Homo sapiens: one gene and its partners. The protein of the gene in region 2 interacts with the protein of the main gene of each other region in a pairwise test. Each region holds a gene or a part of one and is shown on either strand. Other genes may lie near its edges.

Region 1 (5,340 bases), on a different chromosome or scaffold from region 2:
CCCTCCTATATGGTTAGAGGAAATATAAAGAACATGCAATCACCCAAGCAAAGTGAGGACAAAGATGGTTTCTCTTCAGTGCTGAGTCTAGAGAGCAGAGAAGCAGGGCAAGCCGGAGCCAGATATGACTGGAGAAAGCAGCTGGCCACGTGTGAGGCCAGGTTACACAATCAGTTCAACTGCCCATCAGTGGGGGCTGTGACGACAGAACCCAAGACCCCTTCAGCTGAGGCTGAGCCCAGGCTAGGGCTAACAGCACCGCAATGATGCCAATACACTGCCCTTCATTCCACTGGCTCAGCCCACCCCAAGGTCAGGCAGGCAGATGACCTCCATGCCCCAGTAGCTTGACAATGTCTCTTCTAGAGGCAAGGCTGGTGCTGCTATTGCTTCCTACACGTGAGGGATACAAGTGCCATAGGAAAACGCCAATCCGAGAGTCCACAGCCCTCAGTAGGAGGCAACCACTGCCCAGGGAGCAGCAGACATGAGGCAAAGGAGACGCGGGGAGAGATTTAATTTACATAGCAGCCACTTGGGGTCCAGTCAGAGCTGGGGCAGTGGGGGAATCTATAACCCCAGAGGGTACCCCCCAGACCCCCACCCCCGGGAGACCAGTCCTCACCAACCCTTGGATGGGCTCCCAAGGTTGTGCAGAAGATGCTCCAGTCAAAAGGATAGAGACATTTGGGAATAAGGCTGTCCCCAAGTTGGGGGAAGTCCACGGCCTGGAGTGGTGGCCTACATGGTGGCCCAGGGGTCTGAGAGACCAGTCCATGTCCTGGGCGAGTCCTCAGCCTGGTGGCCCTAGAGGAAGCCTTCGCGGCGGAACTGTTCCTGGAGGAGGGCGCGGTACTGGTCAAATCCTCCTTCCACACGGGTGACGCCGCCTCCTTCGCATACCCACAACTCCCGGCACACCAGCCTGATAAAGCGCTCATCGTGGGACACCAGAATCACACCACCCTGAAAGACAGGAGGGCAGGAGGTGCTCAGGGGGACACAAGAGGCACCGAGGCCTGGGAGGAGTGGTCAGGGTGAAGGCACACTCACCCTGAAATTGTTGAGGGCACGGCCCAGAGCCTCAATGGTCTCCATGTCCAGGTGGTTTGTGGGTTCATCCAGAATGTAGAAGTTGGGGCTGGAAGGCAGAACCAGGAAGGTGGGCAGTGAAGGGGTGCGGTGAGAGAAAATAAAGCCTTCTGATACAGTTTTCTACTGGGCAAGAAGGGGAAATGGGAGGGGAAGAGCTCTGGAAAATGAGGCCTCACCAGGGCATAGTCATCTGAGCAAAGGCCACTCGGCTCTTCTGGCCCCCAGACAGGCTGGCAAGAGGACGCATGGCCAGTTCTCCGGAGATGCCATACCGACCCAGCTGGTGACGGTACTCCTCCTCAGGCCGCCCTGGAAAAGGACTCCCCAGATCAGGTGGCTTCTTGGCCCAACACCCTCCCTGTGCCCTCCAGCCACACCTCCAAGTCCCCATGTCCTTCCATCTAGGCTTGGCGGGGCTGCTCTGCACGCACCCCAAGGCAGGCCTAGCTGCCGGGGTCAGCCTCAGCCCTCTTCCCTACTCAAACTCTTCCCCCGACTCAAATCCCTAACTCACCAGGAAACTTGCGTGCCAGCAGTTCCACAGCACTGACGTTTAGGTCCAGCTGCTCCACATGGTGCTGGCTGAAATAGCCAATCTTCAGATTCCTGCAGGCAGAAGCCGAGGTGGAAAAACAGACAAAGGCAATGGCCACGAAGGAGCGCAGGCAGCATGGGTGCCTGCAAATGTGCTCATGGGGGCAGGGGTGCGGGTGGGCCTGACCTGTGAGCGTGTCTGATGCCCCGAACAGGTGCCAGGTCCCCCAAAAGCAGCTTCAGCATGGTAGACTTCCCAGCCCCATTCTCTCCAACCTTAAGAAACATGAAAATGTCATACAGTGTGTGCCAGAAAAATAAATACGGTATGTTCTCATTCATATGTGGGCACTAAAAAGTGTTGAGCACATAGAAGTAGAGAGCAGAGTTGTGGTTACTAGAGGCTGGGAAGGATAAGGGGGGAGGAGGGGAATTGAGAGAGGGGTTCGGGAGAGGTTGGTTAACTGAAACAAAATTGCAGTTAGATAGGAGGAATGGAGGAATAAGTTCTAGGGTTCTACAGCACTGCAGGGACGCTACAGTTCACAATGATAGACTGTACATTTTCAAAAAGCTAGAAGATTCTGAATGTTCCCAACATAAAGTGATAAATGTTTATGATGAATATGCTAATTACCCTGATTTGATCATTACACATTGTATACATGCATGGAAGTATCACTCTGTACCCCATAAATATGTACAATTATGTATCAATAAAAAGAGCACCGCTGTGTGTAACACAGAGGAGAAGGAAATTAGAAGGGGTCCCAGGCAGTCCCCAGTCCCGATGACTCCTTCAACAACCAAAAAAATATTTTTAAGGACTCTAGCCGGGCACGGTGGCTCAGGCCTGTATTCCCAGCACTTTGGGAGGCTGAGGCAGGCAGATCATTTGAGGTCAGGAGTTTGAGACCAGCCTGGCCAATATGGTAAAACCCCATCTCTACTAAAAATGCAAAAAATTAGCTGGGCATGGTGGCGGGTGCCTGTAATCTCAGCTACTTGTGGGGCTGAGGGAGAACTGTTTGAACCCGGGAGGCGAAAGCTGCGGTGAGCCAAGATTGTGCCATTGCACTCCAGCCGGGGCAACAGGGCAGGACTCTGTCTCCGAAAAAAAAAAAAAAGGAACTCTAACTCTACAGAAAAATGCATATACTAAGGTGAGCAATACTTGAGTATTTGCTAAGTGCTGGGGACTTACTTTTCCCAAGAACCAAGTGAGGTAGATGTCAGCGCCATCTTAAGAGTTAGGAAGCTGCTTGGTAACCAAGCTAGGAAATGGCATAGTCAAGATCCGAAGTCTGACCCTGAAGCCCATGCTCTCTCCTCAATGTCTCCAGGTTTAGAAAACTCAGAACCGAGACCAATAAGGTAAAGCACTGCTTTAAGTATTTTTAAGTATTTTTAAAACACTATACACTAGGCTCTTCCTCCCTGAAGAGCAGCGCTGTGCGGCCAGAGGACAGGGCTAGTGTAAGTCCTGCAAAATCCTTAGCCCGGGCCCTCACTCCTGTTCCACAGACCTCGTCCCTTTACAGCCTGAGGATCTGGGCCAATCCACACCACACACTTAGACAGGAGAGTCCCAGCTCGCAGCACAGAGAAACAGCAGCCTTACCACACAGATGCGAGACTCGAGATCAGCAGACACAGAGAGGCGACTGAAGATGACGTGCTTCGGATCGTAGTAGAAATCCACCTCATCTAGCTGCAGAATTGGCGGCGAGAACTTCTCAAACCCATCAGGGAACCTGCAGGAGGTAGGGGTGAGGATGTGGGGGCAGCTGGAAGCAAGCAATTCCCCACCAGCCCCACTGGCCCAGCACTTACTTCATTACGACCTCTGATTCCTTGTCCACAGGCTTCAGCTCAGGCCTGGGAGAAGAGATGAGGTAGACTAGATTTATTACTTAAAAAAATAACTTCCTACACGAGTAATATATGTTCAGAGAAAACTTAGAAAGGGCTTGTACTCCTACCACTCAGGTATCATTACTTTAGAGTCCATTCTTCTCATTTACTGTATGCTAAAAAATAGAATTAGGCTTTTTGTGACTTTTTATCCCCAGTTACTATATTGTGATATGTTTCCACGTCGCAAACATCTAAGCTTTATGATTTTAAGCTTCCTGCCAGCACTTATAGAAAGGGCACTTCAAAATTAAACTCCCAATGCACATTATCATTAGTTATTAAGGCAATGCAAATCAAAACCACAATGAGCTATCACTTCACAGCCACTAGGATGGCTAAAACTAAAAAAAAAAAAGTCAATAACAGTGCTGCCAAAGACATGGAGAAATTGGAACTCTCATCCCTTGTTGGTAGGAATGTAAAATGATGTTGTTGCTTTAGAAAACAGTTTGACAGTTCCTCAAAACATTAATTTGGAATTACCAGGTAACCCAGCAATTCTGCGCCTAGGTATACACCCAAGCAAGCTGAAAACATATGTCCACACAAAAATTTGTACACCAATGTTCACAGCAACATTATTCATAATAACCAAAATGGAAACAACCCAAATGGCCCCTCATGACTCAATAAACAAAATGCTGTATATCCACACAACAGAATATTATCCAGCCACGAAAAGAAATGAAGCTCTGACGCACGCTACAATATGGATGAGCCTCACACATGACGCCAGGTAAAAGACACCAGGCACAAAGGTCATATTGTATGATTCCATTTATATGAAATGCCCAGAATAAGCAGATACGTAGAAGCAGAAACAGAAAGTAAATTAGTGGTTGCCATGTGCTAGTCAAGATTAGCCCTCCAAGAACAGTGTGGAATACTCTGCTTCCCAGCAGAGGAGGAAGTCACAGTTGGCTTCTAGCGAAGGGGAGACCTAGAATGGTAGGGCAAGGGTGGCGTGCAAATGCGGAAGGAGACGAAGAGAACAGGAGTCAGGCCCTGGCCAAGGATGCTGTACTCACAGCTTCTCCAGCATCTTGAGTTTACTCTGCACTTGAGAGGCCCTGTTGGCATTGTAGCGAAACCGGTCAATGAAAACCTGCAGGTGGAGGAGTGTAGGCATTGGTCAAATTCCCCCACTATCCCCCACTCTGGAACCCCTGGGATGGGACCCCCAGCCCTGCCAGGCCCCACACCTGGATGTGCTGGCGATACTGCTGCTGCGCCTCATATTCACGCTGCTGGTTGAGCAGCCGCTCCTGCTTACTCTTGATGAAGGTCTCAAAGTCTCCCCGGTAACCATCTAGCCGCTGGCTGTGCAGGTGGATGATGTCTGTGGCGATGGCATTCAAGAAGTTGCGGTCGTGGGAGACGACTAGGATGGTGGAGGGCCACGTCTGAGGGGTCACAGGACAGCAGGCCCGGTTTGGGAGGGCAGTCAGTTCTCAGGCCCCCAGGTATCTTGGAGGCCGCCTTTCCCCAACACACTCCAGCACCCACAGGCACTCACCTGCAGGTAATTCTCCAGCCACAGGATGGCCCTGACATCCAGCATGTTTGTAGGTTCTGGAGAAGCAGGGGAGCACACACTTGGGATTGAAGGGCTGGAGAACTAGGAACTTGGATGCTACCACCCCTGCCCATCCTAAAGTCAGGGTGCCCCATTTCAAACTCACCATCTAACAGCAGAAGATCTGGCCTATGAAAAACAATACATGGCCTGAGGTTTTAGGTCAGCAACTCATGCCACCTCCCAAGAGCTAAGACCAATCTTCCATAGGGCTTCAT
Region 2 (7,033 bases):
AGTATAATAAAAAAAGAAAAATAAATAAATACATAAAAATAAAAAATAAAAATGAGCAAAAAATCTGAATAGACATTTCTCAAAAAAAGTCATATAAATGGCAAGCAGGCATATAAAAAGGTGCTCAATATCATTGACCATCAGAGAAACATAAATCAAAACTATAATTAGATAGCATGTCATCCCAGGTCAAATGACTTTTATCCAAAAGACAGGTGATATGTTTGGCTCTGTGTCCCCACTCAAATCTCATCATCTCAAATTGTAATCCCCATATATCGGGGGAGGGTCCCTGTGGGAGGTGACTGGATTATAGGAGCGATTTCCCTGATGCTGTTCTCATGATTGTGACTGAGTTCTCACGATATCTGATGGTTTAAAAGTGGCACTTCCCCCTTCGCTTCCTCTCTCCTACCCCCATGTCAAGAAGGTACTTGATTCTCCTTTGCCTTCTACCATGATTGTAAGTTTCCTGAGGCCTCCCCAGCCATGCGGAACTGAGTCAATTAACCCTTTCTTCTTCATAAATTACCCAGTCTCAGGTAGCTCTTTCTTTTTTTTTTTTTTTTTTTTGAGATGAAGTCTCACTCTGTCACCCAGGCTGGAGTGCAGTGGTGCGATCTCAGCTCACTGCAACCTCCACCTCTCAGGTTCAAGCGATTCTCGTGCCTCAGCCTCCCTGAGTAGCTGGGACTACAAGTGCATGCCTCCACACACAGCTAATTTTTTGTATTTTTAGTAGAGATGGATTTTCACCATGTTGGCAGGCTGGTCTCAAACTCCTGACCTCAGGTGATCTGCCCACCTCGGCCTCCCAAGGTGCTGGGATTATGGGTGTAAGTCACCATGCCCGGCCACAGGTAGTTCTTTAAAGCAGTGTGAAAACGAACTAATACAACAGGCAATAAAAAATGCTGGTAAGGATGTGGAGAAAACAGAACTCTCATACATTAAAACTACTATGAAAAAATTAAAAGTCCAATAAAAGAAACTGTAAAGTTGAAGAAGTCTCCCAAAAAGTACAACATAATGACAAAGATGGAAAATAAGAAAGAAATGAAATTTAAAGAAGCAAGCTAGGAGATATCATATCTTAATAATGGGAAGTTCCAGAAAGAGAAAACAAAAGGGAAGAATTAATCCAAGAAATCAAAGGGTACACTGAGAATATTCCATAAACTTCTAAAAAAAGAAAAAACAAACAATTAGATCAGATACAAATAATCAAGAACTAGGATGGCTTTGGATTCTCAATACTTACACAGTAAAGAAGAAAACAATGAGGTATGGACTCCAATGTTTCAATGAAAGAGTTTTCAACCTTTAATTCTATATCCAAGTACAAGCAAATAATATGCCATTTTCATAAACATAGTATCTCAAAAAACTTACTTCCCATGCCCACTTTCGCAAGAAGGTACTGGAGGATGTGCTCTACCAAAGGACAGTATAAATCAAGAAAAAAATAAGACATATCATAAAGAAAACTGGAGATCTAACACAACAAAGACATATAGGAAGATCTCAGGATAAATACTTGCATCTGACACAGAGGGCAACTAGTCCAGATTAGAAGAATGTAACTCAAAAGACAGTCATAATGAGGGTTGTTATCACCAAGATAACTGCTAATGTAAGAACAGAATGTCCAGGAAATACGAAAAGAACATAAAATAATTGTTTTGTTCCCTAAGAAGGCAGGAGGGGATGAGATATAATCCAAAGCTGAGGTGAAAAGATCACCTTTAGACAGGAACAACTGCTACTGAGACTCTGGAAGAGTCTTCAACACAGATGAAGTGGACAATATTGAAGCTGTCTTCCAACGGTTTCTATCGTCTCTGTAAATTAGGAAGAAAACCCACTTGCTAAGCATAAAAGAGAAGGGGTAAGTTTGAGGTTTGAAGAGGGGGGAAAAGTTGAAATAACTGTTAAAAATAGTAGGAAAAGTTAACTAGGGAAAAGACAGTAGGCCATCTAAGCAGTGTTGAAACTGCTGCACTGGTTTCTCTATTAATTTATGATCATGAATCTGCTCCGTCGAAACTTTTCTTCAGCAGTACTTGGCTGCTTAGATACAGATTATCCAGTTATGGGGGCTCATCAGAGTTACAATTTCATTTCATTTGAAGAAGGGCAAAGATAAGAATATAAGTTAGAGTATTATTTAAATAATGAGCTATGAACTTTAACGAGGATAACAAAGAAAATGAGAAAGGATAACATGTATTAAATGGTTAGGATAATGCCAAGGCAATATTAAGCAATAAAAAAGATAGCTATTATTATTACTAACCACAGTCCTCCAGCAGTAAGTGATTTCCATCACTCTAATTTGCAATCATGTATATATGTATGTGTATGTGTGTGTGTGTATATATATATATATATATATAATGTATGTATGTATATATATGTATGTGTATATATATGTATATATGTGTGTGTATATATATGTGTATGTATATATATACATCTCACTCTCTTCTACCATATTGAGCTCTTTGAGGATAAGTAGTATGTCTTACTCATCTGTCTCTTCCCAAAGCCTAACTCAGTAGTTAGCATGCTGTAAGAGGCTCTTAAATGTGTATGATTAAACCAACAAATCAAATACCCTGCTTTTAAGCTACCCATATAGGGCATTATCACCTTAACATTAATTCAGAAAAATAGATATTTCCTTAACATTAATTCAGAAAAACAGATATTTTCAAGAAAGGCATCTAAGGGCCACTGACAATTCAATGGTGGAAATTTACTAAGTAGCTAACAGCATGATTGATAGGAGTTTTCCTGTACTGCAGACTATAGAATTAGCATGAGGAAGAAAATGAGTTAATGTACAGTACATGAAAACTGAAAGTATGTTTTCTCATTTTTAAGGGGCAGGAGGGACCAACCCCTGCCTCTATTTTTAATCAGTTTAGTACCCCACAATGTTTCATTAAATGAATACTCCAAAGCATGACCTACCCAATGCTGATCAAATATATGCATAAAGACTTCAAAGTAAGTTCGAGAACATATATTAATCTGTGAGCTGGCCAGGCCCTTTAACTTCCTCTTTGCTTTAGGCAGAGAGCAGATCCCCCAAATAAGAATGTACTTTCTCTGGTTTATTGAAGGCCATCTTTTTTAGCTGTAGATCCAATAGAAAAAAAATAGGATTTTATTTTTGCTGTTGCTTAAGTTAATATAATGTTCATTTAAAAATATTCATAGGGAAAAATATACAGCTTTGATATAATAGTAGACATATATAGAATATAGTGAATTACAACCTTAAGTGCGAGCTGTGCTAAAAATCATCTTTAGTAAATGTGTTCTTTGAAACTGTTGGTCCTTGTAAGTCTGAAGCACTATGTAATACCTAATACGATACTAAAACCAGCCAGGCCCAGTAGCTCACCCCTATAATCCCAGCATTTTGGGAGGCTGAGGTGGGAGGATCTCTTAAGCCCAGGAGTTAAAGAATAGCCTGGGCAACAAAGTGAGACCACGCCTCTGCGAAAATAAAAATTAAGAAATTAGCTGGGTATGGTGGCAGGCACCTGTGGTCCTAGCTACATGGGAGGCTGAGGCAAGAGGATCCCTTGAGACCAGGAGGTTCAGGTTGCAGTGAGCCATGTTCAAGCCACTGCACTCTAGCCTGTTATGACAGAGCGAGACCCTGTCTCAAAAACTATATATACTAAAACACCTAAACCTCTAGGTCTAATACTTTATGGAAAATATATGCAGAGTTTTCATCTGAGATGACAAAACAGTTCCTTGTCTCTATATTTTCTAACCTGTATTCTAATAAGCAGAAGTCACAACAGAAGCTAGGAAAAGGGGATTTCAGGCAGTGAACAAAAAGGAAAGAAAAAACGTTTTTGCAATAGGATACTTCTTAGTCCAGTTTGACTCCCTTCAACACTCTTGTTTTTGCCTGAAGGTCCCGAGAACTGTCCCATCTCTACTTTCAAGGAAAGAACTTGCAGTTTCTGGCCAGAGTTGACCTCTTTTCCAGAGCTACTGCAGAAAAAAGAGCACCTGCTCTGGCTGCATCCCCATTCACAATTGCTGATTTGTAAATTAAGCAATTCGACTACAGCAATGTGTGTGTTTGTTAGTCATTAAGAACAATACATTTGAGGGGGATGGGTTGAAAATAAGAAAAAACAAAATGATAAAATGTTTGGGTTTTGGGAAAACAGGAAAGAATGACAGATACAATCCAAAGCAGAGCTTGCCTGTCAGCAACAAGGGAGAAACCTGGCAACAGATTACAAAGGTTTCCTTTTCCTCTACTATCTTCTCTTTATTTCAGTGAAAGTTAAAGACACATCATAGGTGGTATAAACAGGGAAATGCTAGATCAAGTTTGGGTACACAAACTGTAATCTAATCTATCTGCATTTCAGAGTAATACCCAGAGGACAGACATCTTCATATAGCTACTGAACATACTCTTTTGTTTGTCCCGTACGCAGCTCAAAATCATCAAATAGTAATGTGCAATTTTACCCATAAATTCAGGATAAACGTAATGAAATTTTTTAAAAATCTAAGTTTTTTTAGAAATAAAAAATAGCCAAGCACAATGGCTCACACCTGTAATCCCAGCATTTTGGGAAGCTTAGGAGGGAGGATCACTTGAAGCCAGGAGTTTGAGGCCAGCCTGGTCAACATAGCAAGACTCTTGTTTCTAAAAATAAAAGAAAGGGGCCGGGCGCGGTGGCTCATGCCTGTAATCCCAGCACTTTGGGAGGCTGAGGCGGGCGGATCACGAGGTCAGGAGATCGAGACCATCCCGGCTAAAACGGTGAAACCCCGTCTCTACTAAAAATACAAAAAATTAGCTGGGCGTAGTGGCGGGCGCCTGTAGTCCCAGCTACTTGGGAGGCTGAGGCAGGAGAATGGCGTGAACCCGGGAGGCGGAGCTTGCAGTGAGCCGAGATCCCGCCACTGCACTCCAGCCTGGGCGACAGAGCGAGACTCCGTCTCAAAAAAAAAAAAAAATAAATAAAAGAAAGGTGCCAGGCATGGTAGCATGCACCTGGATCCCAGCTACTCAGGAGGATGAGGCGGGAGGATTGCTTGAGCCTGGCAGTTCAAGGCTGCAGTGAGCCGTGATCATCACTGCACTCTAGCCTGGACAACAGAGCGAGACCTTGTCTCTAAAAAATTAAAATTAAAAAAAGCTTCATAATTATCATTAGACATAGTTGTGGCCAAAATTGTAGTTAATAAAAAATTCAGGCTAAGAGATACACTATAAAAATATATTTTTAATAGAAATATTCTTTTGCATAAAACTTTTCTTATAAAAATTTTTCAAAAAATACAGATACAATCTAACAAAAATTATGCTAAAATGTCTTTCTCCGATGATTCAGAAGATACCTGAAGATTCTGCCTAGCTTCAATAATTTATTGAAACCATGACATGAGTCTCATAAAATAGCTCAGAAGTAGTTTCCCAGTTTGAGTCATTATTTTATTTCTTACATCACTCTTGTATCTTCTACATCAATAACCACTAGATAACAAATGTTTGCCGCACCTAGGGAATAATATAATCCTTTACTGTGACTTGTCTGTAAACATTTTCTTAACTAAAAATTAATTCCAAATTATCTGAAACAGATGCTATCCAAACAATAACAAGTATATTCCAATGAGATGCAACATAGCCTGGCTACTCTTTTATAGATTCAATCCCATAAACCCAACACCCAACTTAAGTTGTTTTTGTTTTCAATGAAGTAAAATTACCATAGATATGAAAGCTGTATTACCTTCATAATGTTAACTAAATCTGTTTGATAGTAGCGATCCTGATGTGCATTTGCTGCCGCTAGGGTAAGAAGATAATCATTCCTTGCGTGGGTAGCTTTGGAATTACACTCAGATCGCCGGGCTTTTAACTAAAACATAGCAAAATAAAATAATCAGTGCAAACTGATATTGTACTGCAAAACACATAGGAATCCTACTCTTAGTTTGCAATTAATGGCTCCCCAACAAGAATAAAGGTAACCACGTGCGGAAAACATTTATACGTATATAAAAATTATTCATCACTACTAAGGAATGAAACAGTGACTAGAACTGTTATACAGGGCAGGAGCATTTTCAAATATTTGCTTAACATACTTCTAAAGCTTTGTAGATAACTTAAAAATATTTTGCCCATTTATTCAAATGACTAAATAAAGGTTCTGAAATAAGTACCTTATCTTCAAAGGTATGGGTAAAATCTAGTGGAGTTAGAAAACAGTTTTTTAAAAATCAGCACTCCTAATGTGCCAGATGAACTGCATGCTAGTTTGAAGCCTGGCAGCCACAGCCAGGTCTCTAAGCTTACTTAATCAGGCATTCCACAGTGTGAAGTTTCCGAAGGAAAAACTCACTCACATCTGGCCCAGAATATCACTCAGGGGTCTAAATCTAAACGAAATAGATTTTGTAGAGCTTTCCAAAGCCCCCGGATTAAGTCTCTTGGACTAAGAGCTAAAGACAACAGGCTGCCTAAGCAGGTAAGGTCCAGAAACTTATCCCTAATGCAGTCTTGAGAAGCAAGTGTGTCCAAGGTGTTGACAGCTGGGTGCAAAACCCCCATGAACTGGGAGGGAAAGTTCCTCCCTGAGTCAGTGACTTTAAAATGCTTCTCTAAGGTAGAAATAATCCACCTCCACCCTCAAAGATCCAATTCTCTGTTTTACAAGCTAAGAGGTTTCTCAGTTGTGAAATACACTTATTGAAAACTTACCTTTACACTTGCCTTCTGTAAACTGATTCTTGATTGAAAAAGACTAAGTTTAGATCTATAATAAAAATAGAAAAGTATGTTTAATAAAATCATCTAATTATATCACAATAAAATTACTAAATATATTATTAAAATTTAAAAATAATCTTTTTTGAAGATACTGCTCTAAAAAAGAATGAAAAAATGGAAAACCAAGAGTAATGATTATTTTCCTTTATTTTACTACAGGAAGAATTTATTATCATGGTAAAACAGGAAATACTGGGATTAATA
Region 3 (7,033 bases), on a different chromosome or scaffold from region 2:
AATGGCCATGTCACTGGTTTATATATTTATTATACTATACTATTTATTACTATTCAAGTTATTTTAGAGTGTACTCCTTCTACTTATTTAAAAAAACATTAATTATCTGACAGCCCCAGGCAGGTCCTTCAGGGGGTATTCCAGAAGAAGGCATTGTTATCATAGGAGATGACAGCTCCATGCCTGTTATTGCCCTTGAAGACCTTCTAGTGGGACAAGATGTGGAGGTAGAAAACAGTGATATTGATGATCCCAACCTTGTGTAGGCATCAGCTAATATGTGTGTTTGTGTCTTCGTTTTTTAAAAGAAGTTTAAAAAGTTTTAAAAACATTTTTTAATAGGAAGAAAGGTTACAGACTAAGGATATAAAGAAAATAGTTTTCTACAGCTGAATACATGTTTATGTTTGCAGCTATTACAAAAAAGTAAAAAGTTAAAAAAATTTTAAATGTTTATGAAGTTAAAATGTTACAGTAAGCTAAGGCTAATTTATTATTGAAGAAATAACATTTTAAAAAATAAATGTAGTGTAGTCTAAGTGCAGTGTTGATAAAGTCTACAGCAGTGTATGGTAATATCTTAGGTCTTCAAATTCACTCACCACTCACTCACTGACCCACCCAGAGCAACTTCCAGTCCTACAGTTCCATTCATGATAAGTGTCCTATTCAAGTGTACAATTTTTACCTTTTCTACTGTATTTTTACTGTACCTTTTCTATCGTTTCTACTGTATTTTTACTCTACCTTTTCTGTGTTTAGATGTGCTTAGATACAAATACATGAATACTTACCACTGTCTTACGAGGGAGGGAGGGAAAAGAAGGGAAAGGGAGAGAGAGAGAGAGAGAGAGAGAGAGAGAGAGAAGAGAGCCATCCAGAATAAAACAAAGCAAATATAGCCAAAATGACATTTGGGGAATGTAAGTAAAGGGTATATAAAAAATTTCTGTATTATTCTTGCAACTTTTCTGTAAGACTGAAATTATTTCAAAATAAAAAGTTTAACTAAAGAACTTATTTATGTAACCAAACACTGCCTGTTCCCAAAAACCTATTGAAATAAAAATAAATAGCTTAAAAACAAAATAGAAATAAAAAACAAGATCATTTCAGCTAGTGATAAGTACTAAAAGGAAAATAAAAAATGGTAATACTACAAAAAATACCTGGGATGGGGTGTGGGGACTGTAGCATAGTCCTTAAATTGGGAAGTCAGAGAAATTAACATCTGAACTAAGACCTAAACTAAAAATAGAAGCCAGCCATCTGAAGATTTGGGCAAAGAATTCCAGGCAAAGATATTCCACATGCTCTAAGGTGAAAATGCACTCGTGACTTCAAGATACAGGTAAAGACTAAATGCATGTGAAAAATTGTTCAATGTTATTCATAATTTAAAAATTAACTAAATAGTTGAGTCACTTCATTTCTTAAGAGATGGCAAAGAACGGGTCCAGGGGGTACCAATATCCAGTGGGTACCCTGCTTTTCCAGATGTCAATTTCCCAGCATAAGAAATTTTAAAACATTGACACCAAGCAATTCTTGTTTGAAAGTTTATCTTAAAGAAATAATCAGAAAGGCAAAGATTTATGAAAAAGGTTGTAATATTATTTATTTATAGCATAACACTGGAAACAACATAAACTGCCATTACTATAGGAATGCTGGAAGAAAACTATGATACCTCTATATGGGAGAATTCTATGCAGCCATTGGGCTTATGACATAAAGTTAGATAAAAATGTATACAAACAAAAAATGGTATCTATATCCATCTCTTATAAAGAAAATATTATCTAAACCAACACTGGGACAAGGAAATGCCAGTTACCTTGCCTTAAGATGACAGGATTATGATTTTTTTAATATTATGGAATTATGATTTTATACTAACCTTGCTAAGTACATTTTTTGAAATTTTTCTAATTTTTTTTACAATGGGCATGTTTTTCATAGACATTTATAACAGAAATATCCAAATATTGCCAAATATCAAAAACTCATAAATTAGAAAAACTGTAGCACGGTATCCTTAATTTACCAATAACTATACATTTTCTATCCACATTCAACTCTAAATACTAATCCAACTCTAAATACTGCAATTTCAGGATTCTTTTCCAAGGAATTTAATGATCCCAATTTTCTGTACTGAACTTATGAATGGAGTTCAAGGGTGCTGGGACCTTTGATAAACAGGAGATGTTTCTGTGGGAGGGAGAAGGCTGCAGAGGAGGAAATTTCTTTGAATTGGAAAAAATATGTTATTTTCTGTAGCTTGTTCTTTTAGAATTCATCCTCAGGTTTTCTAAAAGCTTCCCTGTCCTGTTCTAGGTAGGTTGTTTTGATAATATTTTTGATATTCAGTGAAAGGATGGGTAAGAATTATATTCACAATTTCAAGTGCCAGCTATAAAATTCAATTACTGCTCTATCAATGATGAAATCCATTCATTCATACATTTATTGAGAAAGGGTCTCATTCTGTCACCCAGGCTGGAGTGCAGTGGTGTGATCATAGCTCACTGCAACTCCCAACTCAAGCGAGGCTCAAGTGATCCAAGCAGCTGGGACTACAGGTGCACACCACCACTCCCAGCTAATTCTACTGTTTCATTTTTTTGTAGATGCAGCATTTCGCTATGTTGCCCAGGTTGGCCTTGAACTCCTGGCCTCAAGAGATCTTCCTGCCTCAACCTCCCAAAGCACTGGGATTATAGGCATAAGCAACTATGCCTGGCTTCAAATACATTTAGAATTATCAACATTAGAAATTTGATATAAATATATCATCTCTTTGTTTCTCTTCATAAGTGAGACAATGTAAATGTGTATATAACTGAAAATACTTTTTAAAAGAATCATTAAGGATGACTTGACTGTTTGTTGCTTGAAGAAGTGTGGTAATGCAGAAAGAACGGACTTTGGAATAAAATAAATCTAGGCCTCATTACTTTCTAGCTAAGTGCCTTAATTAAACTTGTTAACACCTTTGAACTGCTGTCTTCTCTTTGAAAATGGGGATACCTCACCTGCTACTGTGAGAATTAGAGCTAATGTAAGTTAAGTGCTTAACATATGCTTGAATCATCGCAAGTACCCGAAACCCAAAACAAACGAAAGACAAAACTTGACTGAATTTCCCCCTTTCTTCCAGCCCTGATTCCATGCTTCATATTTAAGTTCTACATCAGGATTTCTCAACCTTGGCATTATTGACATTTTGGGTTGGATAATCTGATTCTTAGCAGCATCTCTGGCTTTGTCTACTAGATATCAGTGGCGCTCCACTAATTGTGAAAATAAAAAATGTTTGCACACATTGCTAAATGTCCCCTGGGCTTCAAAAGTGCCCCAAGTTGATGACCACTAATCTATATAGACGACTAAAATATACAAACGGCATTTAATAGGGCCAACCAAAACAAGTGATCTCATTTTTCCCAGACTACTGAAAGCCAGTGATGGGAAGGGGAGAGGTAAATATTCCATTTTATATAAGGAATCTGTTTATTTCATGAAGGATTATTATGAAGGGGTTTAAAGCCCATGTCTTTGACTACTAAAATAATGTATTTTGACCATTATCTTAGTGGTCAAAGATTTGGATTTTAAAATTTGACTGTCTCCATTTAAATATAGGTTGGACAAGTTAACCTCTCCAAGCTTCAGTTTCTTCATCTGGGTTATTATGACTGTTACATGGATTAAATGCATAATACAGGTAAAGTGCTAAGCCCAGTGTCCGATATGTTGCAAGCACTCAATAAATGTTGGCTGTTCTTATTATAATCTAGGTCCTCTTTCCAATCCTGGGCTTTCAGGTCCCTCTTATTATGCCTTATCTCAGATTCCTCACTCTATACATATACTTATTTCTACTCCAAAGTCATCCTAACCCTTCTTTATTGAGGCACCTAACGCTGAGGGTGTAAGAAAACTGCCTGAGCTGGCAAGAGAAGACTTTGGTAATAAATTCTGAGAAATCTTCCCTTACCATGTCTGACTATCACTGACACATGATGTTTTTTGTACACTGGAATCAGGAAGAATACTATTTATGCAGAAAAAAGTGAGTAAAATTAATTACACTGAAGAACGAAAAGTACTAACTTGTGTTCCATTAGGGCACAACTATTGGTATAATTCATACATTAGTACATTGTAAAATAATAATAATAATAATAATAATGTTCCCAAATTGAATGAAATCAATTTGCAAATTTTTCTTTAAATTCAGGGTTTTCTTTCTTTCTCTCTCTCTTTCTTTTTATTAAGACAGGATCCCACTCTGTTCCAGGCTGCAGTATAGTGGTGTGATTATGACTCATTGCAGCCTCAACCTCCTGGGCTCAAGTGATCCTCCTCCTCAGCATCCCAAAGTGCTGAAATTACAAGTATGAGCCACCATGCCCAAACCCAGAGTATTTTTTTTTAATTAAAAGTAGAAATTTCCAAAAGGATTTACTAAATAATTTACAATTTATAAATGACCATCTATGATAATTATAAGCTACATAGATGAAGTTATCAAGTAACTTTTTAAAAATCAAAGATTAGGCATGAATCAGAAGTCCCGGAAAAGAAAAATGACCAAAAACCTACAAAATGGAGTCTCAGAAAAAAAGTCAGTGCTATGTGAAAAAATGATGCCTTTCTATGCAGAAGTGAATAACAATTTTTACTACAGCTCACCTGTAGTTTCTGAGTCAAAGAATCCCTCTGTTCTTGTAGTTCTCTGGCATTATCAATTTCTTGTTTTAACCTTTCTATTTCCTAGAAAAGACAGAGCAATGTCTTAACATTCAAACTATATCAAGGCAAGGGAAGGTCTTGTTTTTCCCTGAAATTATTGTTCTAGTTCTTAGAAAAAGATGATTTTAAAAACATTCCTTCATATTGACTTTTAGAGGGATGAATTCATCTTTATATGTATGTTGTCTAGAACAATAATCTTAAGCAACAGCAACAAGTCTAACTTGGTGCTTCTGGTACAGCAATGCTTAGAAATAACAACCTGAACATTTTAATGTTGCTTCAAGCTTTGTGGATATAATTCTTTCCTAAGATATTAAAGTTTTGACTGGAACCCAGAGAAACCAACAGCTTTTAAAATCCATTTAACCCCTAATGATTTTCTGTTGACTGTATAAATGCAACTCTCATCTGGAAGGCAACAGGTGGTATCTCGGTCTGACTGCCTCACCACAGTTCATAATAACAGAAATAAGGATAGAGAAAATATGAGCAAGCTTAATACCACTCAAGAAAAATTTCATCCTAAAAAAGAGGTCACAACCTGACTTTATTCCATAAAATACTTTTAAATTTGACATGGAATCTAATACTTTGTACAAACATGTTAGCTAGATTACAGATGAGTAAAAAGCAGCAAATACCTCTTCCTTCAGTTTCAGTGTCTCTTCCAGTTCTTGTATTGTCTGATTTAATTCTGTCTTATGAGTATGTACTGCATTTGCTTGGCTACTAACACATTCAAGTTCAGTCACCTAAAATTAAATGAGAACACAGATTAACTTAAATTTCAACTTTAAAGAGTTTCTTGCTAAATACATAGCCCCAAATAAGTGAATAGTATATTCTGAATAAATATATAAAAATTAATTTTGAGAAATATTAAGACACTCAAGGTAGAGTGAATAGATTCTTCAAAGATATAAAACTAGGAAAAGGGAAAAATAATCATTTACATGGCTTAGTCATAGAAAGGTTAGGATAACTTAAATTAAGTGATTAATGACAGTAGAGAATCCCTATAATGAAAGTCTTCTGTAAAAATTTCTTCCAAAAACATATTCAAGATCAGATATGACCATCTGTCCTTCATCTGTAGCCTTCAAATTCAATATGGGTTCTGAAAACTGGCCTTGCAGAAGTGAGAATTTTTTCAAATACATTTCCAACATGTAAGAGAATCTGGAAGAGAAAATAGGCTTAAAATACAACTTAAATCATTAGATACTGGAATGACTTTACATCAACAGTGTCTCTTACGGGTAAGATAAAATTTTGTTAGTCAATAAGAATTTACTGGGGGCCCAAAGAGTAATATAACTTTTAATGAGCACTTGGTATTTTTTGAGAGAACAGAGAGGGGCACTGTCCTTCAAGTTATACCATCTAAAACTAGAATCAGCAATAGACAGAAGTCAATATAAATACACACACACACACACACACACATGCACACACACACCCTATCACAGTTCTTTACATATATCATGTGCTCATAAAATTTTGGTTTACTAGAAGATAGTAAATTCTAGACTATTAAAGAAACAGAGTAAATCCCTCTCCCTGGCATTTTCCAAATATCAAATTACCCTCTACATTCTGTGATTCTCTCTCTTATATAATTTTCTTCCTTTCTTCTCATGTACTAATAGCCTCGTTACAAACCCTTATCATCCAGACCTGAACAAAACCAACAGCCTCCCAGTGGACTTAATTATAATCTTTTTTTTGTCTATTCTGCAAATTGCTAAGATTCATCTTTCATTCCTGTGATTCCACCATTCAAAGACTTTCAGCAGCTCATCTTTTTTACGGTATCAGATCTAAACGCTCAGATCCTCTGTATATTGGCCCCAACCTTCTCAACCATCCACACTGCCCAAGATACTCAGTGAGTACTTCCAACTAAAAGCAGGCAAATCTCCTTGTCCTAAGAACAAGTGATATTCATTCCCAACTTGTTGATTTAACTAGAATGTCCTCTCTTGCCTCTGAAAACCACTCGGACCTAACCGAACCCTTAACTCTTAGCTCAGCATGTGCTTTCTCCAGAAAGCCATTCCTATCTGCTCAAGTCTTCAAGGCTCTCCTCTGGTTCACAAAACCAAGCATCTGTTCAAAAATCTTGGGAATTATTTCACTTATTGTTTAATGTGTATTTGTTTTGTCTCATTATATAATAAATTCCTTAAAGGGAGTTCCAATTCTGATAATGATGAAATAGTTTTTATTGGAGTAACTTTCCTATAGGTAACAATTGCAAATTGTGGGC
Region 4 (7,170 bases), on a different chromosome or scaffold from region 2:
TATTACTTTATGCATTTGTCACACATTAATACCTAAAATTTAGTGAACATTTATTATGCTCTAGTCACTGTTGTAAGCAGTTCATATGTATAATTCATTCCATTCTCATAATACCATGAAGTAGGTACTGTTATTACCATCAACTTAAAGATGAGACACAGAGAAGGAAATTGTACAAGATCTGTCAGTAAGTGGAAGAACTGGGACTTAAACCCAGGCAATCTGGCTCCAGAGCCTGAACTCCTAATCTGTGCTATGGTGCCTGTTCAAGGAAAATCTTATTTCCCCTATTAAAATGTGAGTTCCTTGAGGGACAGAATGAAAAGAGGTTTTTGTTGGCTTTTGTTGTTGTTGGGGACGGAGAGGGGGGTGCGTATTTACATCCTCCACACTTAGGACAGTTCCTGAGACACAGCAGACATTTGCCAGTATTTGTTGAGCTGAACTGGCCTCAAATACTCAACCAAGGCGTCTGGGCTGGGCGTGGTGGCTCACGCCTATAATCCCCGAATTTTGGGAGGCTGGGGTGAGAGGATCACTTGAGCCCAGGTGTTCAAGACCAGCCTGGGCAATACAGGGAGACCCCGTCTCTTTTAAATTAAATTAACAACAAAAAAAAGCCAGGCGTGGTGGTATGCGCCTGTAATTGCAGCTACTCAGGAGGCTAAGGTGAGGGGAACCCTTGGGCCCAGGAGGTCAAGGCTGCAGTGAGCTGTAATCGTGCTACAATACTCCAGTCTGGGCAACAGAGCGAGACTCTGTCTAGAAAAAAAAAAAAAAAGAGAGAGAGAAAGAGAGAGAGTCTGGGTTGTTCTTCCTATAGGTCAAGGATCACCAAATTATTCTGTAAAGGGCCAGATAGCAAATATTTTAGGCTTTGCGGGCCATAAGGTCTCTGTCACAATTACTCATCTCTGCCCTTCCTGTGCAAAAGCAGCTACAATATGTAAACAAATGAGCATGGCTGTATTCCAAGAAAAGTTTATTTACGAAAACAGTGAGCCAACTGGCCCATGTGCTCCAGTTTGCTGACCCCTATTATACAGATAATAGGAATATATTAAAGGTTTCTAAGCAGAGAAATTGAGTTTTTAGATTAACTGTGATGGCAATGTAACCAGAAAGAGACCATCTAGGAGTTTCCATATTGAAACCAAAGTCATGGCCTCCTTTATCTTTCTATAATCATTCTAAAACAGTGTTGTCCAATGGAGATACAATGTAAGCCACAAATGTGAGCCAGGTATGTAATTTTAATTTTTTTCTTTTTCTTTTTTTTTTTTCAGAGACAGGATCTCGCTCTATCACCCAGGCTGGAGTACAGTGGCACAAATAGTAGCTCACTGTAACCTCAAGCTTAGGCTCAAGCAATCCTCCTGTCTTGGCCTCCTAAAGTGCTGGGACTACGGGTGTGAGCCACCATACCTAGCCTACTTTTAAATTTTCTAGAAGTCACATTTTAAAAAGACTTTTAAAAGCAGGTGAAATTAATTTTAATAATACATTGTATTTAACCCAATATACCCAAAAATATTGCCATTTAACACATAATATAAAAATTGACATATTTTACATTCTTTTTTCATAGTAAGTCTTAAAAATCCAACGTGCATTTTCATATGTAAAGCACAACAATTCAGATAAGCCCCATTTCAAATGTCTAATAACCACATGTGGCTAGTGGCTACCATACTGGACAGCATTAAAAGAATGATCAACTAAACCTACAGATCTCCATATGCAGCTGCTGGTTTTGGGACCATCTCCTTGACCGGCTTGCCATTGATTTTTGACCGAATTCTGAACTATATATACTACAGTTTGACATTACTGGCAACTCAATAAGGCAATGTCTTCATTTTTTATGTTACATTTGTACACCACTTAGTTTTCACATACGATTTCACACCTGATCCTCATTACAAACACGTGAATACGCAAAAGATTTCACACCTGATCCTCATTACAAACACGTGAATACGCATGTTATATCAGTTTTACAAATGAGGAAAGAACGTTCAGAGAAAAAAAGAGACAACCATTGAGTGTTAGAACTGAGAAAAAAAAAGTAAGTCTCCTGACCTCTGGTCAAATCTATTTACGCCCCAATAATACCACCTCCTTAATCAAAGTTGCACTTCTCTGTGCGACTGGTCTTTATTTCCTCCAGTGATTGTAAACTCCATGAAGAAAAGGACTGTTTTTCCTGACCACTGTATTCCCAGTGCCCAGTAAGGTGTTTTACAAGGAGGCAATATTTATTGAATGAATTAATGACGTTTCTGCTTTTCTCATTTTTAGTCGGTTAAATGTAATTTACTTTTTTAAAGCAACTGATGTGAAGAGCCAAAGTACGCCACCAAATTGGTAGGTTTTTAAAAGTTGAACTTTACTGCCAACATACTTCAAAAGAGAACGAGGGGGAAAGGCTCGGAGCCAAGGCCTGAGTTCTAGTCCTGACCCTGCCATGAACTGGCTGTGAGCCCTCACGTAAATTTTTTTAACTTCTCTGGGCCAGAGTTCTTATCTGTCAAAAGGGAAGAGTAGGGCTATAATCTTCACGATTCCGTGCACAGGTAGGGTTTTTGACATTAACTTGATGTGAGCCGGCTTCCTAACTCCTCACACCCTTCCTCCAGTCCCCTCTGCAACGGCCGACTTGGTGAGAGAGGTAACCACCGGGCCCTCTGGGTTCCCTATCCGCTTCCTAGGGGGGCCGACTCGACACCTAGGTGCAAGGTGGATCCCACGGGCCAGAACCGCCATCTTTCCCCATTGGCCTGACCCCAACCGCCACCCGCGGGCACTGGATGACGCGGACCTTACCTCTCCTCACAGTCTTTGCATTTCACCTGCAACGGGACTAGTTGGTGGAACAGCACTTGGCTCATGTTGGCTCGCTGCCTCGGCTGGTGTGCAGAAAAGCCCAACAGGCCCGGCCCTCGGGATTAGCCTGAGAGGTCCGGGTCCTGATAAAGTTTGAGTTTGGCGCTCGGCTTCTGCGGAGGAGGCGGGGAGGGAGAAACGAGGGGAAGGCGTAAGAGACTTGGCCCTCGCCAGCCACCATCGGATTCTTCCGGTTCTGCGGAGGATAAAGGGAAGACGGTTGTGGTAGTTCCGGGTATTAACCTGTGTGGCGCGGGGGCTGAGGCAGCCATGTTTGTTAAGGGAAGGAGACCCGAAGGAAGCTTCTAACTTTTCTTCTGGTTGCCGGATGCTGGACACCGGAAGCGAGCCCTAGAATTATGGCGACCTCCGCGACGTCGCCGCACGCGCCTGGTTTTCCAGCTGAGGGTAGATGCGGTTACTATGTGGAAAAGAAGAAACGGTTCTGCAGGATGGTGGTGGCCGCAGGGAAAAGATTTTGTGGTGAACACGCTGGAGCCGCGGAGGTGTGGTATCGCCCTACTCTCTCAAGAGTCGGAAATAAGTATCCTGGTCCTGTCGGTGCTGGAACCCGGCCCCTCCCCTCTTTGACAGCTTTCTGCTTGTGTCCCCTGGATTCTCCAGCTTTCACTTTAATAAACCCAGTTTTGCCCTCCTTGCGGAGCGATTATGAGTTCTAGTGATGAGAAATTTTTTATTTTTCTAAGTAAAGCGCCAGCAGTGACCCATTTATTTTGATCTATTTATCTCGATCTTAACTCATGGTAATGCTAGGTTTTAATTTTTACCCCAAGCTACCGCTCCGTCTTCCTGCTGGAAAGTGGTAGTTTAGAAAAAGTAGTGATTGAAGTCCCAAAGGTTTCACTAGTTGTGTTCTAATTGTTATTTCATGAAAGAGAAGCACTTCTCGTGAATGCGGTTGGAAGAAACTTTCTTTTAAAAATTTAGACTTGAGGCCCGGCGCGGTGGCTCACGCCTGTAATCCCAGCACTTTGGGAGGCCGAGGCGGGCGGATCACTTGAGGTCAGGAGCTCGAGACCAGCCTGGCCAACATGATGAAACCCTCTCTCTACTAAAAATAAGAAAATCAGCCGTGGCGCGAGCTACTAAAATTAAGAAAATCGTGGTGGTGCGAGCCTGTAACCCCAGCTACTCGGGAGGCTGAGGCAGGAGAATCGCTTGAACCCAGGAGGTGGAGGTGGCAATAATCCAAGATCACACCACTGCATTCCAGCCTGGGTGACAGCCAGACTGAATCTCAAAAAAGAAAAAAAAATTTTTTTCGACTTACAGTTTTTAAGAATGCAACTTTGCTGGAATGGGAAGGAAAGATTTTTAAATATATACGAATTGACCTTTTACAATTGAGAACAAAGCATACAATTTTGTTTGATAATTATGCATATAAATGTACTATCAAACACTTTATATTTGTATATATGTATATTACTTTAGGATATATATGAGATGGGAAAATAAAAACCAGAGGAGCAAAATGCTCATAGGAAGAGAGCATGTCCTTATAGTTCCACAGAACTATAAAGAATAAACCAAAGCGATCAGCATCAGATTTCATGCTTCTGAATGTTCAGTATTATTTGCATTATTTTATTTCTTAAGGAATTTATTCTTCTAGACAATATCCAGTGCAGATCAGTCCCCTGACCCCCTTCATCTGCCACTCTCCATCATAGTTGTAGTCTACTTCCTATTTTGTTTTGACTGGCATTTACCAAAAGTGAAGCATACTGAAACAAGGACATTCTTGTTTTGGAATATGGGAGACGTGATTTGTTGTGGGAACTCTGAATTATGCCCATAGTCTATTGACTGGTTTTGAGGGGACTGGCAAACATCCCTTGTTGAAGAATGAGAGTTATGATAGGAGAAGGATTTAGACTCCACCTTATCCAGATATATGGAAGGTGAAAACAAATAGTGATGATAGTAGAATATGAATAAATCCTTACAAGCTGATTAGTATTCCTATAGAGGAACGACATATTGTCATTAGACACTTGAAGAGAGACCGCAAAACATCAAGTGGAAACACTTTTATTGACTACTATCTCGTTTTAAATTGTGGCTATCCTCCTGAATCTGTAATTTATGATGTAACTGGATGTTGTGTTTCCATCTTTTTTTCTAAGTGTCATATATAGCTGTGATGACACCACTCATTTTTACCCAGTGGTTCTCGACTGGGACTGATTTTGCCTCCAGTGAACACTTGGCAAAATGAAGACATTTTGGTTGTCAAACTGAGGAGTATCACTGACATCTAATGGATAGAGACCAGAAATGCTGCTAAACCTCCTACAAATCACAGGACAGCCCCCTGCACTCACCCCCTCAAAAGAATTACCTGCCCAAAACGTCAATAGTGCCAAGATTGAGAATTCCTGTTTCTAAATTCAACTAATAAATTTTAAATGTGCTTTTTTTTTCCTATGCTACAGTTAGGCTCTGGGGGTTAGAATAGTCTTTTACATGGAGGTTAGGATTTAAAGTCAGCAATAAGGAAGAAATTATATACAGTATTTTCTTTTTCTTCTATTGAATATATAGTATTTTCAAAAAAAAAATTTCTTAGCTTTCCCATGAAATTCAGTGTGAATAGCTTCATGGACATGCTGAGAGGCACATTCGAACAGAAATAAATTTTTAAAAGAATAATAATAGCAGACACTTAGTCACCACTTACTCTATGTACAGCACTGGGCTAGGCAGTTTTGTTTTGTTAACTATTAGCTCACTTAATGTGTTCAAACCTTAGAAGGTAAGACATATTTTTGTTCTCATCTTTCAGATGAGGCAGTAAGCCTACCTAACTAAGGTCATAGGGATCGTAGCTGGTAGGTAGAGCTGGGTATCATACCTAGGCAGTCTGGCTGGCCTGTGTTCTTAACTGTTATATGACCCCTATTTATACAGATTCATGTGGAATATTGGGTAGAATTGCCAACATTATCAATTTTCCTTTCTTTTTTCCCAGTTCATATAGTCATGTGCCACATAATGACATTTCAGTCAACAACAGACCGCATATATGATGGTGGTCCCATAAGGTTATAATACTGTATTTTTACTGTACCTTTTCTATGTTTAGATATGTTTAGATACACAAATACTTACATTGTGTTACAATTGCCTACAGTATTTAGTATGGTAACATGCTGTACAGGTTTACAGCCTAGTAGCAATAGGCTATACTATATAGGCTAGATGTACAGTAGGCTATACTATCTAGGTTTGTGTTACTATACTGTATGATGTTCTCCCAATGACAAAATCACCTAAAGATATATTTCTCAGAATGTATTCCCAGTCATTAAGTGATGTAACTTAGGAATGAGTAGGATGTAACTGATAGTAAAAAGTTGCAAAGCCAGTAAAATATGGCACATCCAAATGGTTAAAATGCCATGTTCCATTGTTTCTAAGAAACTTTATTTTTACATTTTAACATTCTAAAATCAGGATACATCTTAAAATCCATATGTCAATGGGCAGCATTTTCCAAAAAATGATTAGTATGTGAGGCAATACATGTTAATTAGCTTGATTTAGCCATTCCACAATGTATACATATTTGAAAACATTATGTTGTATTAAAACCATACATAAATAATAGTGTATATTATTTTTATTGCCATAAAAATCACAATTACTTTTGTACAAACCTAATATGTGATAAATATATACAACTATTTGTCAATTAACATGAAATAGGCAGCATTTTTTTCTTTCTTGGTTGTGCATAAAATAGTCATACATATAATAGTTGATGCTATCTTAGATTTCAGACACCATATGTAGGCCTTCTCTATACCCTGTTTGAAGCTATAGACCCTTGTTTGTCCAAAGCAGTATTTGTTCATATGTATTTAAGCCAGTACACTGGAGAGTTTTTGTTAAACCCTTGGGACCTGATTTTGCCAACTTTTCATTATGTCCTTGTAAGGTTTCCTTACCTTGTTTTGAGATTACAGAGACACTGAAGTTATATCTGGTATCTGTAAGCAATAAACTTGATATTTTATTTAAATAAATGTATCTCTTAATTTATTAGGAAGAAGATGCTCGGAAAAGAATCCTGTGTCCTTTAGATCCAAAACAGTAAGTGTGGATCAGATACGGGTTTTTTTTTGTGCTGGAAACAGTAATTGGCACAAGTCTCATTTGAAATAATTTTCTCTTTAAATTTAGCACAGTATATGAAGATCAACTAGCAAAGCATTTGAAAAAATGTAACTCAAGAGAGAAACCAAAACCTGTAAGTGT

What was found.
Region 1: the proteins of FCHSD2 (region 2) and ABCF3 interact in binary tests that used the Homo sapiens proteins (3 or more experiments, as listed by UniProt).
Region 3: the proteins of FCHSD2 (region 2) and HOMER1 interact in binary tests that used the Homo sapiens proteins (3 or more experiments, as listed by UniProt).
Region 4: the proteins of FCHSD2 (region 2) and SASS6 interact in binary tests that used the Homo sapiens proteins (3 or more experiments, as listed by UniProt).

Annotation. Positions count from the first base shown.
Region 1 is NC_000003.12:184,189,166-184,194,505, reverse strand, and holds the end of ABCF3 (ATP-binding cassette sub-family F member 3), read right to left. Parts: intron 5,252-5,340; coding exon 5,229-5,251; intron 5,119-5,228; coding exon 5,063-5,118; intron 4,950-5,062; coding exon 4,749-4,949; intron 4,652-4,748; coding exon 4,575-4,651; intron 3,508-4,574; coding exon 3,463-3,507; intron 3,384-3,462; coding exon 3,251-3,383; intron 1,906-3,250; coding exon 1,817-1,905; intron 1,702-1,816; coding exon 1,610-1,701; intron 1,405-1,609; coding exon 1,272-1,404; intron 1,142-1,271; coding exon 1,054-1,141; intron 967-1,053; coding exon 808-966; 3' UTR 501-807; downstream 1-500.
Region 2 is NC_000011.10:72,978,302-72,985,334, forward strand, and holds part of FCHSD2 (F-BAR and double SH3 domains protein 2), read right to left. Parts: intron 6,816-7,033; coding exon 6,761-6,815; intron 5,916-6,760; coding exon 5,787-5,915; intron 1-5,786. UniProt on the Homo sapiens protein: Adapter protein that plays a role in endocytosis via clathrin-coated pits. Contributes to the internalization of cell surface receptors, such as integrin ITGB1 and transferrin receptor.
Region 3 is NC_000005.10:79,392,122-79,399,154, forward strand, and holds part of HOMER1 (homer protein homolog 1), read right to left. Parts: intron 5,517-7,033; coding exon 5,406-5,516; intron 4,783-5,405; coding exon 4,702-4,782; intron 1-4,701. UniProt on the Homo sapiens protein: Postsynaptic density scaffolding protein. Binds and cross-links cytoplasmic regions of GRM1, GRM5, ITPR1, DNM3, RYR1, RYR2, SHANK1 and SHANK3.
Region 4 is NC_000001.11:100,129,924-100,137,093, forward strand, and holds the start of SASS6 (spindle assembly abnormal protein 6 homolog), read right to left. Parts: upstream 3,008-7,170; 5' UTR 2,892-3,007; coding exon 2,827-2,891; intron 1-2,826. Other genes in the region: TRMT13 (tRNA:m(4)X modification enzyme TRM13 homolog), read left to right, coding at 3,246-3,392, 6,959-7,005, 7,096-7,162.